4 linked regions of the Homo sapiens genome follow. The protein of the gene in region 1 purifies or fractionates together with the protein of each later gene. This does not show direct contact. Each region holds a gene or a part of one and is shown in the gene's direction. Other genes may lie near its edges.

Region 1 (4,009 bases):
CCAGAAATCTGCACCATGCCCAGGGAAAATGCTGTTCCTTTATTTACATGAGGCAGAGGTTTGTGTTGTTTGCTGAGGTCCAGCAGCTCACTGTGAGGACAACCTCTCCCTCGTTCCTGATTTCTGGCTTATTCAAGGCCAGAGGACCCAAAACTCGAGTTGAAAATTTTGACTAGGAGAACAGATAAAAATAGAAATGGAATCCATCTTAAGAAATGCTCAATGTGAAGGAGAGGGGAATGCAAAATAGTTTTTCTGTTTTACCACAGTCTTTGTAACTGAAAATCCTATGTTCTTGAGATAGAGAGAGAGCCAATGATCCAATGCAAGAAACTGAGTTTAAGAAGAAACTGTTTGCTGGGCACGGTGGCTCACGCCTGTAATCCCAGCACTTTGGGAGGCTGAGGCAGGCGGATGGCCTGAGGTTGGGAGTTTGAGGCCAGCCTGGCCAACATGGTGACACGTCGTCTCTACTAAAAATACAAAATTAGTCCAGCGCAGTGGTGTACGCCTGTAATCCCAGCTACTCAGGAGGCTGAGGCAGGAGAATTGCTTGAACCCTGGAGATGGAGGTTGCAGTGAGCTGAGATCGCGCCACTGCTCTCCAGCCTGGGTGACAGAGTGAGACTCCATCTCAAAAAAAAAAAAAAAAAAAAAAAAAAGAAGAAAAAGAAGAAGAAGAAACTGTTCATCTGAAATCCGACAACTCATTCTTGAAGGTTAGAGCTCAGCTTTGAAGTTTCACTTCACGAGCTTGGCTCAGTGAGGTATGTTACTCCCCGGTGAAAAAGAAAATGAAGAGAATGTTTTATGTTGAAAGTGCTTGGTGACGAAAAGGCAGCACCTAGATCCCTTATCTCATAAAAAATGCAGCAGATTCTTAATATTAGCAATCTAGTGTTTAGATTGTTACCTGAAGAAAGGAAAAACAAACTGTCCCAAATGCTGATTCTACTGTTTCGGTGGGAAAAAAAAATGTCTTGCAGGCAAGTGGCAAACAACAAAACTTTTGAAAAAGCAGGCCTGGGGGGAGTCCAGTACAGTTTCATAATGGGTATGAATAGTTATTTTACTGTGTTCCCCCCACCCCCTTTCTTTCTGGGTTTTGATGTGGATGTCTTTCTATTTGTTCAGGAAATTGTGACGTGTGTTCTGGGCAGGGTTTGAGGTTTTGGAACATTTTCTAAAAGGGACAGAGAGCACCCTGCTACATTTCCTAATCAAGAAGTTGGCGTGCAGCTGGGAGAGCTAGACTAAGTTGGTCATGATGCAGAAGCTACTCAAATGCAGTCGGCTTGTCCTGGCTCTTGCCCTCATCCTGGTTCTGGAATCCTCAGTTCAAGGTAAGACTCAGGAGTCTTGTTCCCCAGCCATCTTCTCTGTAAGCCCTGTGGTCCATGCAAGTCATTATATTCATTTTAAGGCATAGAATGTATAATATTGTGAGAAAGGAGGCAAAGAAGAAGGATTTGGGGTCGCTGAACCCTTTAATATGAGTTCTGTTAAGTTTGGTACCAAGAAAAATTAAACTCTGTGGCGTGTGCAGTCTTGTAAACTCTTACAATGATTGAAATGTGCTATTTTGGGATGAAAATGTGAGGTTTATAAATTTTAAAAGCTCAAAAAAGGAATCTAGAAAATGACTCCTGTGCCTGTTGCATGGAGGAGATGGCACCTTTGACTGTTGGGGGGTGTCTGCCTACCCCTAAGTGTCTACATCAGCCCCAAGTTTTAGTGCGCTGTGACGGTGTCATTGTTATTTTAACACTGGGAGACGTTATATTCCAATTGGGGTGAATCTGACTGTGTGTATTTTCTTTTCTTTTTTTTTTTTTTAAAGATAAACTTGGTTCTTACTGAAAACTCAATTATGGTTAGACATAGTTCATGTAAAACCTCTCAGATTTTAAAGAGAAGGCCAAATAATTTGGTATTTGTGCTCTTGCTCAGAGAAGCATCATATTCGGAAATATCTTCCTAGGTTTATCTACCATTTAGTGTTGTTTAGTCAGACTGAAACAACTTAAAACCTGTAATGACTAAGACAATGAAAATGATAGGCTTGTAAGAAAAATACAATTTGTTATTCTTTGGCAAATAAGGAATCATGTCTAAATAAGACGGAGGTCATGGCTTGATAGAGAGATGGCTGAACCTATAGTAGAAAAACACTAGGTTCCGCCAAATGGTAAGGGAAATGTTGAGTCACAATGACACACATGTCCTAGATTTGTTTCGTCAAAGCGACTTTTGGTTGTCATGATCTTACTTCCGGTGGAGATGAAATCTTACAGATGATCGCAGAGACATTCATTTTATGTTGGAAATTTATAAAATCATTTTCTTCTAGTTATGCTAATGCTGAAAAAAGAGCAAGTAATGTTTCTGGAACGTTATTAATTTATGTATTTTTAAAATATAAAACATTGTCAATTGTAGGGAACAGGCTTCACTGGGATCTTTTAGGGAATATCTTCAGCTTGATGAAATAATTCCCGAATAGCCAAGTGGTCTGACAAGATCGAGAGTAATGAGGCCCATACTTTAGTACAGTCTTGAATGGCCAGATGGTGCTGGGCATACCCCAACCAGAGATATGTAAGTCTTTATGTTGTCAAAATTTCCCAGAAACATGAATTTCCCACTAAGATTCATTAAGGAAAACTAGAATGAAAACAAAAACGTTCCTTGTATAATATTCATTAGAAAGAAATGAAGAAGGCCGGGCATGGTGGCTCACGCCTGTAATCCCAGCACTTTGAGAGGCCAAGGTAGGCAGATCATGAGGTCAGGAGTTTGAGACCAGCCTGGCCAACATAGTGAAATCCCGTCTCTACCAAAAATACAAAAAAATTAGCCGGGCATGGTGGCACACACCTGTCATCCCAGCTACTCAGGAGGCTGAGGCAGGAGAATTGCTTGAACCTGGGAGGTGGAGGTTGCAGTGAGCTGAGATTGCACCACTGTACTACAGCCTAGGTGACAGTGCAAGACTCTGTCAGAAAGAAAGAAAGAGAGAGAGAGAGAAAGAAAGGAAAGAAAGAAAGAGAAGGAAAGAAAATAATTCATCATGAAATTGTATAGAATACTAGCATTTATGTCATGACCTCGTAGGTTTAGCTCTTTGTTAGAAAAGGAAACCATAGAAAGAGACAAGGGAGAAACTGACAAACTAGGGTGTTTCCGAAAAAAGGCTCTCAGTATCGGGCTCAAGGGCTTGTGCCCACATCTGAGCATGCAGGGAAATAGATGTCCCCCACTGGCTGCACATGTGAGTGACTGCGGCACAAGGCTGTGATGTGAAGAGTCGTGACACCATTTCCTCACACCTCCACGCAATGCCAGATATGATTCGACAACATTCTTCCTGTCTTATAAAAAGTGTTTATCTAGCCCGTTGGTTTGGCAGATGAAATCAACTAGGCTTTTGGCTTGCTTTTACTGAGCATATTCAAAACCATTTCAGGTCACTATAGTGGTTTGCTCGGGTTGCCATAACAAAGTACCACGGACTGAGTGGCTTAAATAACAGAAATGTATTTCCTCACAGTTCTGGAGATGGGAGTCCAAGATCAAGGTGCTGGCAGGGTCGATCGCATTCTGAGGCCTCTCTCCTTGGCTTATAGATGGCGCCTTCTCCCTTGTCTGCACATGGCCTTTCCTCCATGCATCCGTGTCTTAATACCATCTTCTTAGAGGGTCACCAGGCATTGGATCAGGGCCACCCTAATGGCCTCATCTTAACTACCTATATCTGCAATGACCCTATTTCTGAACAATTTCACATTGTGAGATTCTGTGGGTTAGAACTGGAACATATGAATTTGGTGGTGGTATATTTTTATTATAAGTCAAACCCAAGTAAAGATGTGGGGTAAGATTGTGTTTACCAAGCACAAAGAAATGGAAATTTGGGGATGTGTAACTCTGGAGAGCACAGATGACTAATCTATTTAATGTAGGGCTCCAGGGGATTTGATGAGGCCTGTGAATCTTCCACTTTTATTGC
Region 2 (3,414 bases), on another chromosome or scaffold:
AGCGCAACAGGCAAGAGTAACAGTCTCCCAGAGACTCCGCACACAGCACATGGGAAGACAGAGCTGTGGCCACCACGTCTCCCAGCCCTGCAGGAGGCTCACAGCTACAAGCACAGGATTTTACAGCTGCTTGGGGAATGGGGTTATGAGGTGAAGACCCTGACCCACCCTCCCTGAGAAAGGAAAAGGCATCTTCCTAAGATGAAACCCTCCCTGAGGTCCCCTCCTAGTAGCCTTGGGTGGACAAGAGAGGTGAATGGGGCACAAAGAAGGCTAGGCAGGACTGGGCACCTCTACCTCACCCCCAAAGCCATCAGTCTGCAGCCTAGTCACACCTGAATCACTCTACATTGCGTAAAACTTTAAATGGGCTGGTGTCGATAGCCTGTATTTAACAAGAAGAGCAGCTAACATTTCTCATGTATTTCCCATATGGCAGACATTGTTACAAACACTTTATATTTACTGTTTAATTGATTTCTCTCCACAACCCTAGGAGCTAAGCACTGTTGTCATTATTTTCATTTTAAAACTAAGAACATGAAGGCCCAGAGAGTTTAAGCAGCGTGCCCAAGGCCACACAGCAAGTCCTAGTGGCATGAGTCACTGGGACTTGACTCAGACAGCCTGACTCTAGAGCCTACCTTTGAATTTCTACACTAAATTTCAAAATCTGTCTACCTAAAAGGTATTTCGTTGTGTCAGAAATGTAGTTTTGCTGTTAATACAGGTGTCTTCTTCTCCAGGACACAAGAAGCACCTGGGGGCATGTGCAGGGGCCCAGCCTGGCCTCTGTGACTCACGGCACCCCTGGCTGAGATAATACACAAAAACAAGGGTGTTCCCCTGAGTAAGGAAGGCTGCAGGACTGAAGGACATTTACAGAGGAGTGAGGAGAGGGCAGAAATAAATGGATGGATGCACAGGCAGCGGCCCGACGGCGCTGGGGACTATGCATGGGGCCCCAGCTGCCCCAGGACAGCCTCCAGCTTGGGGCAGGGCAAGGGGAGGAAGCTCAGTCCATGGGAAAATTCCATGGCCCTAACCTGAGGGAAGCCCATCTCTGCCCATAAGACAACTAAGTTCATCTCCTCTATTGCATTCCAGAGCCGTGGAGCGAGAGATGCCGGCCCTGGGCTGGGCCGTGGCTGCCATCCTGATGCTGCAGACGGCCATGGCGGAGCCCTCCCCGGGGACTCTGCCCAGGAAGGCAGGGGTGTTTTCAGACCTAAGCAACCAAGAGCTGAAGGCAGTGCACAGCTTCCTCTGGTCCAAGAAGGAGCTGAGGCTGCAGCCCTCCAGTACCACCACCATGGCCAAGAACACCGTGTTTCTCATCGAGATGCTGCTGCCCAAGAAGTACCATGTGCTGAGGTTTCTGGATAAAGGTGAAAGGCATCCTGTGCGGGAAGCCCGTGCCGTCATCTTCTTTGGTGACCAGGAGCATCCCAATGTCACCGAGTTTGCTGTGGGGCCCCTGCCAGGGCCCTGCTACATGCGAGCACTGTCCCCCAGGCCTGGGTACCAGTCCTCCTGGGCATCGAGGCCCATCTCCACAGCAGAGTATGCCCTCCTCTACCACACCCTGCAGGAAGCCACCAAGCCCCTGCATCAGTTCTTCCTCAATACCACAGGCTTCTCATTCCAAGACTGCCATGACAGATGCCTGGCCTTCACCGATGTGGCCCCCCGGGGTGTGGCTTCTGGCCAGCGCCGCAGTTGGCTTATCATACAGCGCTATGTAGAAGGCTACTTTCTGCACCCCACTGGGCTGGAGCTCCTCGTGGATCATGGGAGCACAGATGCTGGGCACTGGGCCGTGGAGCAGGTGTGGTACAACGGGAAGTTCTATGGGAGCCCAGAGGAACTGGCTCGGAAGTATGCAGATGGAGAGGTGGACGTGGTGGTCCTGGAGGACCCGCTGCCTGGGGGCAAGGGGCATGACAGCACAGAGGAGCCGCCCCTCTTCTCCTCCCACAAGCCCCGCGGGGACTTCCCCAGCCCCATCCATGTGAGCGGCCCCCGCTTGGTCCAGCCCCACGGCCCTCGCTTCAGGCTGGAGGGCAACGCTGTGCTCTACGGCGGCTGGAGCTTTGCCTTCCGGCTGCGCTCCTCCTCCGGGCTGCAGGTCCTGAACGTGCACTTCGGCGGAGAGCGCATTGCCTATGAGGTCAGCGTGCAAGAGGCAGTGGCGCTGTATGGAGGACACACACCTGCAGGCATGCAGACCAAGTACCTCGATGTCGGCTGGGGCCTGGGCAGCGTCACTCATGAGTTAGCCCCCGGCATCGACTGCCCGGAGACCGCCACCTTCCTGGACACTTTCCACTACTATGATGCCGATGACCCGGTCCATTATCCCCGAGCCCTCTGCCTCTTTGAAATGCCCACAGGGGTGCCCCTTCGGCGGCACTTTAATTCCAACTTTAAAGGTGGCTTCAACTTCTATGCGGGGCTGAAGGGCCAGGTGCTGGTGCTGCGGACAACTTCAACTGTCTACAATTATGATTACATTTGGGACTTTATCTTCTACCCCAACGGGGTGATGGAGGCCAAGATGCATGCCACTGGCTACGTCCACGCCACCTTCTACACCCCCGAGGGGCTGCGCCACGGCACTCGCCTGCACACCCACCTGATTGGCAACATACACACTCACTTGGTGCACTACCGCGTAGACCTGGATGTGGCAGGTAGGACTCAAAGCGAGACTCTCCCGTTCAAACATCTGCATCCAGCCAATAACTTAAACTCCCAGGAGACGGCACTATAACTCCCTGGTGGTGGAAAGTTAGGAGCATTTGCCAAGCCTGCTTCTGTAAAACCTAAAGCTAGAAATTTGTGTGTCCCTGAAAAATGGTGAAAGCGAACAGTGCCGAGGGTTGCCCTGGATGCAACAGTGTGGACCCTGTCCTGACCCTGGGGCTGTGCATGGGGCAAGGGAGGGGACGGTGCCTATGAGGGTAAGAAATGTCACTGTCTAGCGCTTTGAGATGGAGTGTAGTATTGTCTGGGAATATTCAGGGTGTCTCCTGGATGATATCACCATAAAAGAATGGCATGGGTAGAATAACTAATGCTGCCAGACCCAACAAGGCCACCAGGACCACACGGGCGGCTCCTACCCCTCAGCCCCAGTCACCTCTCTGGACAGAGCCTCCCATGCCTGGAGAAAAATGGGTGCCCCTGCTCTAGGATTGCAGCCACAGCAGATGGGCATGAGCACAGCTCTTGAGAGGAACTTCCCAGAGTGGTAATGGAATCACCACAGCCGCCCAGGGCATCCCCCAACATCCCGGTTATTCAAGACAGTTGGCTGTTGGATGTGGTGGAGGATGGAGATCCTGGGGTAGAATGAGGAGGTTTCAGTTCTGGCAGCTTGATTCTCGTTCTCCTTCTCCCTGCATACCTCCA
Region 3 (3,670 bases), on another chromosome or scaffold:
TATCCTAAAACTTAATAGCTTAAAATAACAAACATTTATTACCTCAGTTTCTGTGCTCAGAAATCCCATTGTAACTTACCTGGATGCCTCTGACTTGGGGTCTCTCCCAAAGCTGCAGTCAAGCATCAGCCAGGGCTGTAGTCATGTCAAGGTTCTAATTGGGGAGAATCTGCCTCCATACCTACTAATAGTCCATTGGCAGACCTCAGGTCCTTCGTTAATAGCTGGAGACATCCTTGCAGCATGTCTCTCCATAGGACAGTTTACACTAGCTGTGGAAGTTGGCTTCCTTCAGAGCCTGGCAAGCAAGAGAGTACCAAGATGGAAGCTACAGTCTCTTTGTAACCAAATCTCAGAAGTGACATCTCATCACTCTTGCCATATTTTATTTATTAGAAGCAAGGGACTAGGTTCACCCAGACTCAAGGGGAGGGAATTAAACAGGAGCATGAGTACCAGGAGGTGGTGATCTTTGGGTTCCATCTTAATGGCTGCTTGCCATATCTGCTATAAGTACTTTGAAACTTCTAGAGCTTTTCCATTTTTACTGTGTCATCTTCACAGAATTAGGATGATAAAACTCCTGTTCAGATAAAATTCCCTGTGCTTAGCTTGCTGGTGTCTCACAATCTTGAATTAATCATTTTATATAGAATTAGACTCCAGGAAGGGGTGCAGACCAAGACAGAGATAAAGGAATATTTATTTGCAGTTTTAGTTGTATAGCCTTTTCTAGTTATTTAAATAAGAAGCTTTGTTAAAACTCTAACAAGAATGTGTACAGTTGGTACTAGAAAGTGTACAATTGGGAATGGTCTATGCTCTTTTCATTATGTAAATTCTAACGTTTGTTTTGTTCAGTATTGGTAAAGGTTTTCAAGGTGTCATGAAAAGATGGGGATTTAAAGGCCAGCCTGCTACGCATGGTCAAACGAAAACCCACAGGAGACCTGGAGCTGTTGCAACTGGTGTGAGTATAACTAGTGAAGCTCTTTTTAATGCTAAATATTCAACTTCTGCACATGTAGTCCTCAGTCCGTCCTTGATATGAAGTCACATAATTTTAGTCTGACACAAGGGGACTCCATGTACTTGTCACCCTTTTATGGATCCTTGCCCCTCACTCATTTCCCAGAGCCAGACTAGAATTAGTTATATTCCACAAGGTTAGCTGAGCATCTGTAGTTTGGCTGTATATACCCTGAGTCTAAATTTAAAATGTACTTTGTGCAAATGTTGAATTCAGTTTGTCTTTTGAATTAGTATCAGTTAACAATTCTGAAATAATTTTCTGTGAATTGTAGGATTGAGTAGATAAGTAAATGTATTGATAATGGAGCTAGGTTTCTCACTGTTGGAAAAGGGCGTTAAAGTATGAAAATGGGAAAATTAAAATGAACCCTATAGTGTTGAATTCAAACTATAAGTATGCATATACTGTTTGGTGGGGGAGGGGAATGCATGCATGCACACAAGGAAAAAATGTAGCACACAGAGAAACAGAGGGGTGTGTGTGTGTGTGTCTTAGTTCTGTCTACTGGAACATTGTAGTCATATATAACGGAATATATTTGTAGAATGAATAAGAGTGATACTTAGTCTGTAATACTCAGAATTGTCTTTTAAGCCTGTTGGTTACATATTAAACATATCTAATGCCATGATGAGGTACTTCCACTGAGAGTTTCACCTGTTAATGTGAGAGCAGCTGATGGAAAAGTGTTTATATTGTGAGAATTCATGTGTTATAAGAAGCTGTTCCATTTTAGTCATAATTCAGATTTGCTTCTTTAGATGTAGAACTATTACCCGTTATCAGAGCCAAAATCAGAGACTGTTAGATTTATGTAAATCAGAGAAAACCAGGGCTAGACAAACTAGTATTCTGATAACTAACTCTGTCCTTGAATAATTTTGGTCAAGGAAAGTAACATCTAAAGCAAGGAGCAGTAGGACCATTCCAGCACCAGTGGTATGGATGAAGTCCATTAAGTCAGTTAATACAGAAGATGAGTTCAAAACAGGCCTGGCAGTCCATTTTTTTTCTTTGAATGATGGTGTCGGTGTGTCTGTATGCCCTTGTCCTTTTTTAATTCTTAGCCAGTATTAGGTCCGTTGTTGCTGAGTTTTTCTCCTAAATCTGCTTCTTAGTCTGTATTTATTTTATCATTCTAGTCTCATTAGAAAGGAAATCCTCTAGGAGTAAATATGCCTAAATCCATATTTAGTTCCTTACTTGGGACCTAGCAGAATAGGGGAAAAATAAAACATTTTAATAATTTATATTTTTAGTTTACATTGTGGTTTGATCAGTGCTGTTTAAAATTGATAGTACTTAAAAGTGTTAACTTTAGTTTTCTCATTTAGGATATTGGCAGAGTCTGGCCTGGAACTAAAATGCCTGGAAAAATGGGAAACATATACAGGACAGAATATGGACTGAAAGTAAGTGTTACAAGTGGTTCTTTTTAGGAACAGCTAAATTGTCTAAATGCAAAGGCAGCAGAATATGTATTTAATCTGTGTCTGTACCATTGTTCTAAGAGGCTTTAAAATTATTGAGGAAAAGAGGATACATGAATTGTGTGTGTGTGTGTGTGTGTGTGTACACTCTAGTTGTAGTAATGGTGGTAGTAATGATAGGGTATATTTCAGGCCATGAAAAGTGCAGTCATTAAAGAGACAAAATTAGTAGTCCACTCTTGGACCTGGAAGATTTTTACAAGATATTGTTGCATGAAAAAAGTAAGATTCAGAGCATTCAGTATAATACTCTTTATTGAGTAAAAGATTTAACAAAAGCTCTCTACGTGTGTATGTTGCTGTGCCATCATATAATCACAGAAGAGTGGAAGGGTATATACCAGGTTCTTGGATTATATATCAAATGTGTGTGTGTGTGTGTGCGTGTGTGTGTGTAAGTGTAAGGAGGAGAGTGGGAGGCAATCAAAATAGGAGGAAACAATAGCACTACAAAAGGATTATGATATACATCCGTTTTTATAAAAAATGTCTGTGTATATTTAAAAGAGAAGTTGAATTCAATCTCTACCAATGAGAAATGTACCTAAGTAAAACTGAGTTATACTATAATGGATGCTGTATAATTATATTTCTGTTAAACAACTAATGTTTATATTTGTTTGCATGTATGTTTTAAAGTGTAGGAAGTACAAAGAAGAAAATAAGCCACCAATAAGAACAATACCCAAAGACAATCACTGGAAACATTTTGGTGCATATCCTCCCAGTCTCTATTCTGCATACCTTTTATATATAAATTTTGACCAGGAGAAGTTTTCAAATTTTATATAATTAAACCTAAGATTTTTTTTACCCCTTCTATTACATTTATACTTATCAGAGACCATCTATTTGCTGTATTTTCTTCGTGTGTGTGATTTCAATTTTTGTAATATTTAATACTTATTCATTATTAGATAGGAGCCATGGGTCAAACTTGATTCCTTATCCAAATATTTTATTTTCTCAGTACCATTTTTTGACCAATCATTCTCTCCCATTTATGTACGTTTTTTCTCCACATGAAGATTTTTTGAGGACCATCTACTCAGCCCACTTACTTTAGAAATTAGAATCAGTGAGGTTGTGGCTTCTCCAGCCTCTAGTTACAGCAAGCTAGTATTAACTAAAAATAAAATAAAATTGA
Region 4 (3,670 bases), on another chromosome or scaffold:
ATCTTTGTGTTCTGATTTCAATTATGTAAGAGCTTTTAAATGCAGGTTGCTTTTGATTAAATTAATGTGATTTAAATAAACTCCATAGCAGATGGCATGTTTACATAGGATTTAAGGCAGTGATGGACAGGATATTTGGCTCACAAGATGAGAAAGGCGAGAGGGACAGGTTTGAGTGCCCTGGCAAGGCACAGTGTAATTCTGGCCAACTCTAGCCCTCCCTCAGCAAGCCACATTTTAGAAACCAAAGTCATAAAGGTACTGTTTTGGCCAGTAATACAATTATGATCCATGCAGAATTCTCTGTCTTATTGGGAAGCTACTTTCTCTAAAATTATTCACAGAATAACTCCTATTGTTTATTTCTAGGTTCTGTATTTAGGGCTATGTTGGCTTTTAAAAACTGTGTGTCCAACATGGCACATGTATACATATGTAACAAACCTGCACGTTGTGCATATGCACCCTAGAACTTAAAGTATAATAAAAATAAATAAATAAAAATAAAAGCTGCGTGCATATGCATATATGCGAATTTTTTAACAAAGGGAAAAAATACGATTTCTGGTTGACTTCATACAGCTAGTTATAATGATCTGTTACGCCAGACTTTCACATTTCTTGTGCATTTTATATGTATTCCTCTTAAATATTAATTTCTGTGTTTTATAGTCACAAGCAATGAGCAGCACAGCCGATCTGTTGGACACAATTTTAAAAGCAATTGAAGAAAATATCACCACTGAAAATAGCTGCTCTCTTCTTATGGCTCTGGACACACTGCTGAACTCTGACAGTACAAAGGAAATGGTACTGAATGTAATGAAATTTATTAAAATAATGCAATATTTGAACTAAGATTTTTAGATGTATGTGCATTTTAAATGTTGCAGGGTCATTGAAGCTAGGCAGTGGATACCTAGGGGTGGATTAAGGTCTCTACTTTTGTATATGTTTGGAATTTTTTATAATACTAAATTTTAAAAATTCCGTTTGTCTCCAAATGGACTTCTTATAAAAGTTTAGAAATTGGCAGTTTGGCTGGGTAATTTTAAATTTAGTGTGATATTTAGCAACATTATTTGGCACAGCATAACTCTCGTATTTCTCCCTGGTCCTACAGTAAATTTTCTAGATATAAAATGTATATTTTAGATATAAATGTATATTTTAGAGTTTTTAATCATCAGTGTCTTTTATTTTTATAATCTTAATTTTTCTCTTCAAAAAATCATATTTTAAAATTAGGCTGGGAAGCAAAATTAAAATATTTATTTTTAAATACAATTAATCAGTGGCCATTAATTAGGTAATTACAAATTATTGGCATTCTGTATTTGTTCGACAAGAATGGTTTTTAAAATGTATCATATTTATTACTATTCCATAGAGCATTTGACCTTGTAATGTCATAGTTGATATGAAAAGGCTGTGGAAGGTGTTCATATCAAGGGCATTGGTGTTTTAAAATAACATTTGGTTGAAAAGATGAGATTTTTTAGCTTTGTGTTCATTTATAAAATTTTGTTATTAATAAGTCTTCATAAATAACATGTACCCAACGATCTTAAAAATCTAAATGATGACATCATTGATCTAGCTTAGGAGTAAGTAGATTCTGAAAGGAATAATGACTGGTTGCTATGACAATGTGGCTCTCACCAGCTGCTGATTTGTTGCTTGAACACAGGGTTTTACGTGCAAGATCCAGGCTCTGCGTGATAAGCTGTGGATCTTCCTGGTTCAGTCTTTCTATGCTGTTCGTCACACAGAAAGCTGGAAGCTGATGAGCACAGATGATCAACAGAAAATCCAAGCAGGTACGTTAGCCTTGAGATATTTCAATTCTTATGTAATGATCATTGTGACAGCAGATATTTTGAGGGCATTCTGATAAGTGAAAAGGTTAACATTTGTGTGCTTCTGTTGGATAATAGGATAACTGAAACTGGTGCTCATATGTTTAGGCAGTTTTAATAAATCATGCTTTTTAGCTGTTCTTAGAAAATGAAACTCATTTCCTTTATATATATATATGTTTCTAATCTTACTATACATTAGCAACAATGTTCTAGGCAAATTTGCTTACAAGCATTCTTGTGAAGAGATTAAAAGTGTAAGAAAATGTAACCCACATAGAACAGAGTATCGAACATACTTTTTCCTCCTTTTTAAATATGTTTTGTCATAAAGCTTTTCCATCTTTTTCATAAGACACCCTTTCTTGTGGTTTTGCCTGGAATAGATGGCTTTATTTCACAACTGATTGGTTCAATGATGTGGAGTGTGCTATTGCGGACTGTCCCTCAGGAGCTGCACAGTGGTCTGTGACATTTAATAGGTATCATCTGAAACATTAGCATTAAACAAAAGATGTATATTGCTCAGAACATGTGTTTAAAAAAAATATCAAAATAAAAATTTGAGGGTGTGGAACTGAAAATGTCTTCATGACTATTTTTGGGTTAAAGCAGGTGCCTTAGATAAAATATTGGCATATTCAGTGTGTATACTTTTTAAAACATTTTAAGAGACTGAATTTTATGAAGCAAACATTTTAGTACTGTAAACATGGAAGCCATGTCTGTTAAAATATATTTTGAGAATGCATAAATATTTAAATTCTTTAGTGGTATCATCAGAATAGGATCTGCTTTTACATTATAAGCATTACATGATAGTGTAGCTAGATGTGATATGAAGAGCACTTTTCAAAGAAATTCCATTATTTTAAACAAAAATTATGAGAAGAATCTCTTAGAAATTGGACATTTTTTTCCTTGTGACTATTTCTGTGCTGATTTTTAAATGATGGTTTATTTTTACAAAATTTATGTAATGTAAAGTAACAAGATAAGATCAGCATTCCTTCAGTAGGTGTCTTCAGCTCTCTTCCGATTAGTAGCAAACTTTGGTTTTCTCTATTTTAGAGGATTTCATAGTTAAGTTGAGCTTCTGTGTTCTTTAATTCTTCAAAGTGCTAATTAAAAATACATGTAAATACCCATATTTAAATAAAATGTTATTGGTAATCCAACTATCCAGCTAATCCAACAATCCTTTTTGAATTGTCAAAAAGGACTTTTCGTTCTGTTACATTATATCAGTGTAATAATAATGTTTTAATCTTAAATAAGTTGAATTATAATGAGTTCTGACTTATGCATAATTACTTCATTGGGAAACCCAGATAAAGGAATGGTTCTGGGTTGTCTGTTACTACATTTCGTATGTCATAGTTGAGTTACTGACCTTTGGGAGAAATTTTTTAGTTTAATTTCTTCCTGTGTATTATTGTGCAGAGTCATTTGCTTACTGCAAATCAGTCCTATAGTGCCATTTTCAGGATCCTGCTTTGTCTTATAGCACATATCCTATAGAATAGAGATCATGGAAGATGCATGGTAGTTACAGATAATTTAATGTATTTTTTATTAGCTGATTTAATAAAAATCAAATAATTTTCAGAGATTGTATATATTTCTTCAAAATATGTCTTAAATCCCAGTAACCTTCAAAAGAAATACATTTGCTAAACTATATTTGTAGCTCTCATATAATTATTCCAGCCTACATATTTTCCTGACATTCAAATTCTTATTTGAAGAGCATAGACATGAGTTCTGCAATAAATTCCCATATAAACCTAACTTATAAAATGAATTTTTAT

Evidence for each region. Proteins that work in one complex are often made in the same cells at the same time.
Region 2: the proteins of SRGN (region 1) and AOC1 purify together in Homo sapiens (affinity purification with mass spectrometry, with the first as the bait; one study listed by BioGRID). This does not show direct contact.
Region 3: the proteins of SRGN (region 1) and MRPL3 purify together in Homo sapiens (affinity purification with mass spectrometry, with the first as the bait; one study listed by BioGRID). This does not show direct contact.
Region 4: the proteins of SRGN (region 1) and BTBD8 purify together in Homo sapiens (affinity purification with mass spectrometry, with the first as the bait; one study listed by BioGRID). This does not show direct contact.

The regions. Positions count from the first base shown.
Region 1 is NC_000010.11:69,086,894-69,090,902, forward strand, and holds the start of SRGN (serglycin isoform 1 precursor), read left to right. Parts: upstream 1-1,209; 5' UTR 1,210-1,264; coding exon 1,265-1,343; intron 1,344-4,009. UniProt on the Homo sapiens protein: Plays a role in formation of mast cell secretory granules and mediates storage of various compounds in secretory vesicles. Required for storage of some proteases in both connective tissue and mucosal mast cells and for storage of granzyme B in T-lymphocytes.
Region 2 is NC_000007.14:150,855,348-150,858,761, forward strand, and holds part of AOC1 (diamine oxidase [copper-containing] isoform 2 precursor), read left to right. Parts: intron 1-1,107; 5' UTR 1,108-1,123; coding exon 1,124-2,693; intron 2,694-3,414. UniProt on the Homo sapiens protein: Catalyzes the oxidative deamination of primary amines to the corresponding aldehydes with the concomitant production of hydrogen peroxide and ammonia.
Region 3 is NC_000003.12:131,468,471-131,472,140, reverse strand, and holds part of MRPL3 (large ribosomal subunit protein uL3m), read left to right. Parts: intron 1-861; coding exon 862-970; intron 971-2,367; coding exon 2,368-2,445; intron 2,446-3,670.
Region 4 is NC_000001.11:92,167,176-92,170,845, forward strand, and holds part of BTBD8 (BTB/POZ domain-containing protein 8), read left to right. Parts: intron 1-672; coding exon 673-810; coding exon of another isoform or gene 811-819; intron 820-1,690; coding exon 1,691-1,820; intron 1,821-3,670. UniProt on the Homo sapiens protein: Involved in clathrin-mediated endocytosis at the synapse. Plays a role in neuronal development and in synaptic vesicle recycling in mature neurons, a process required for normal synaptic transmission.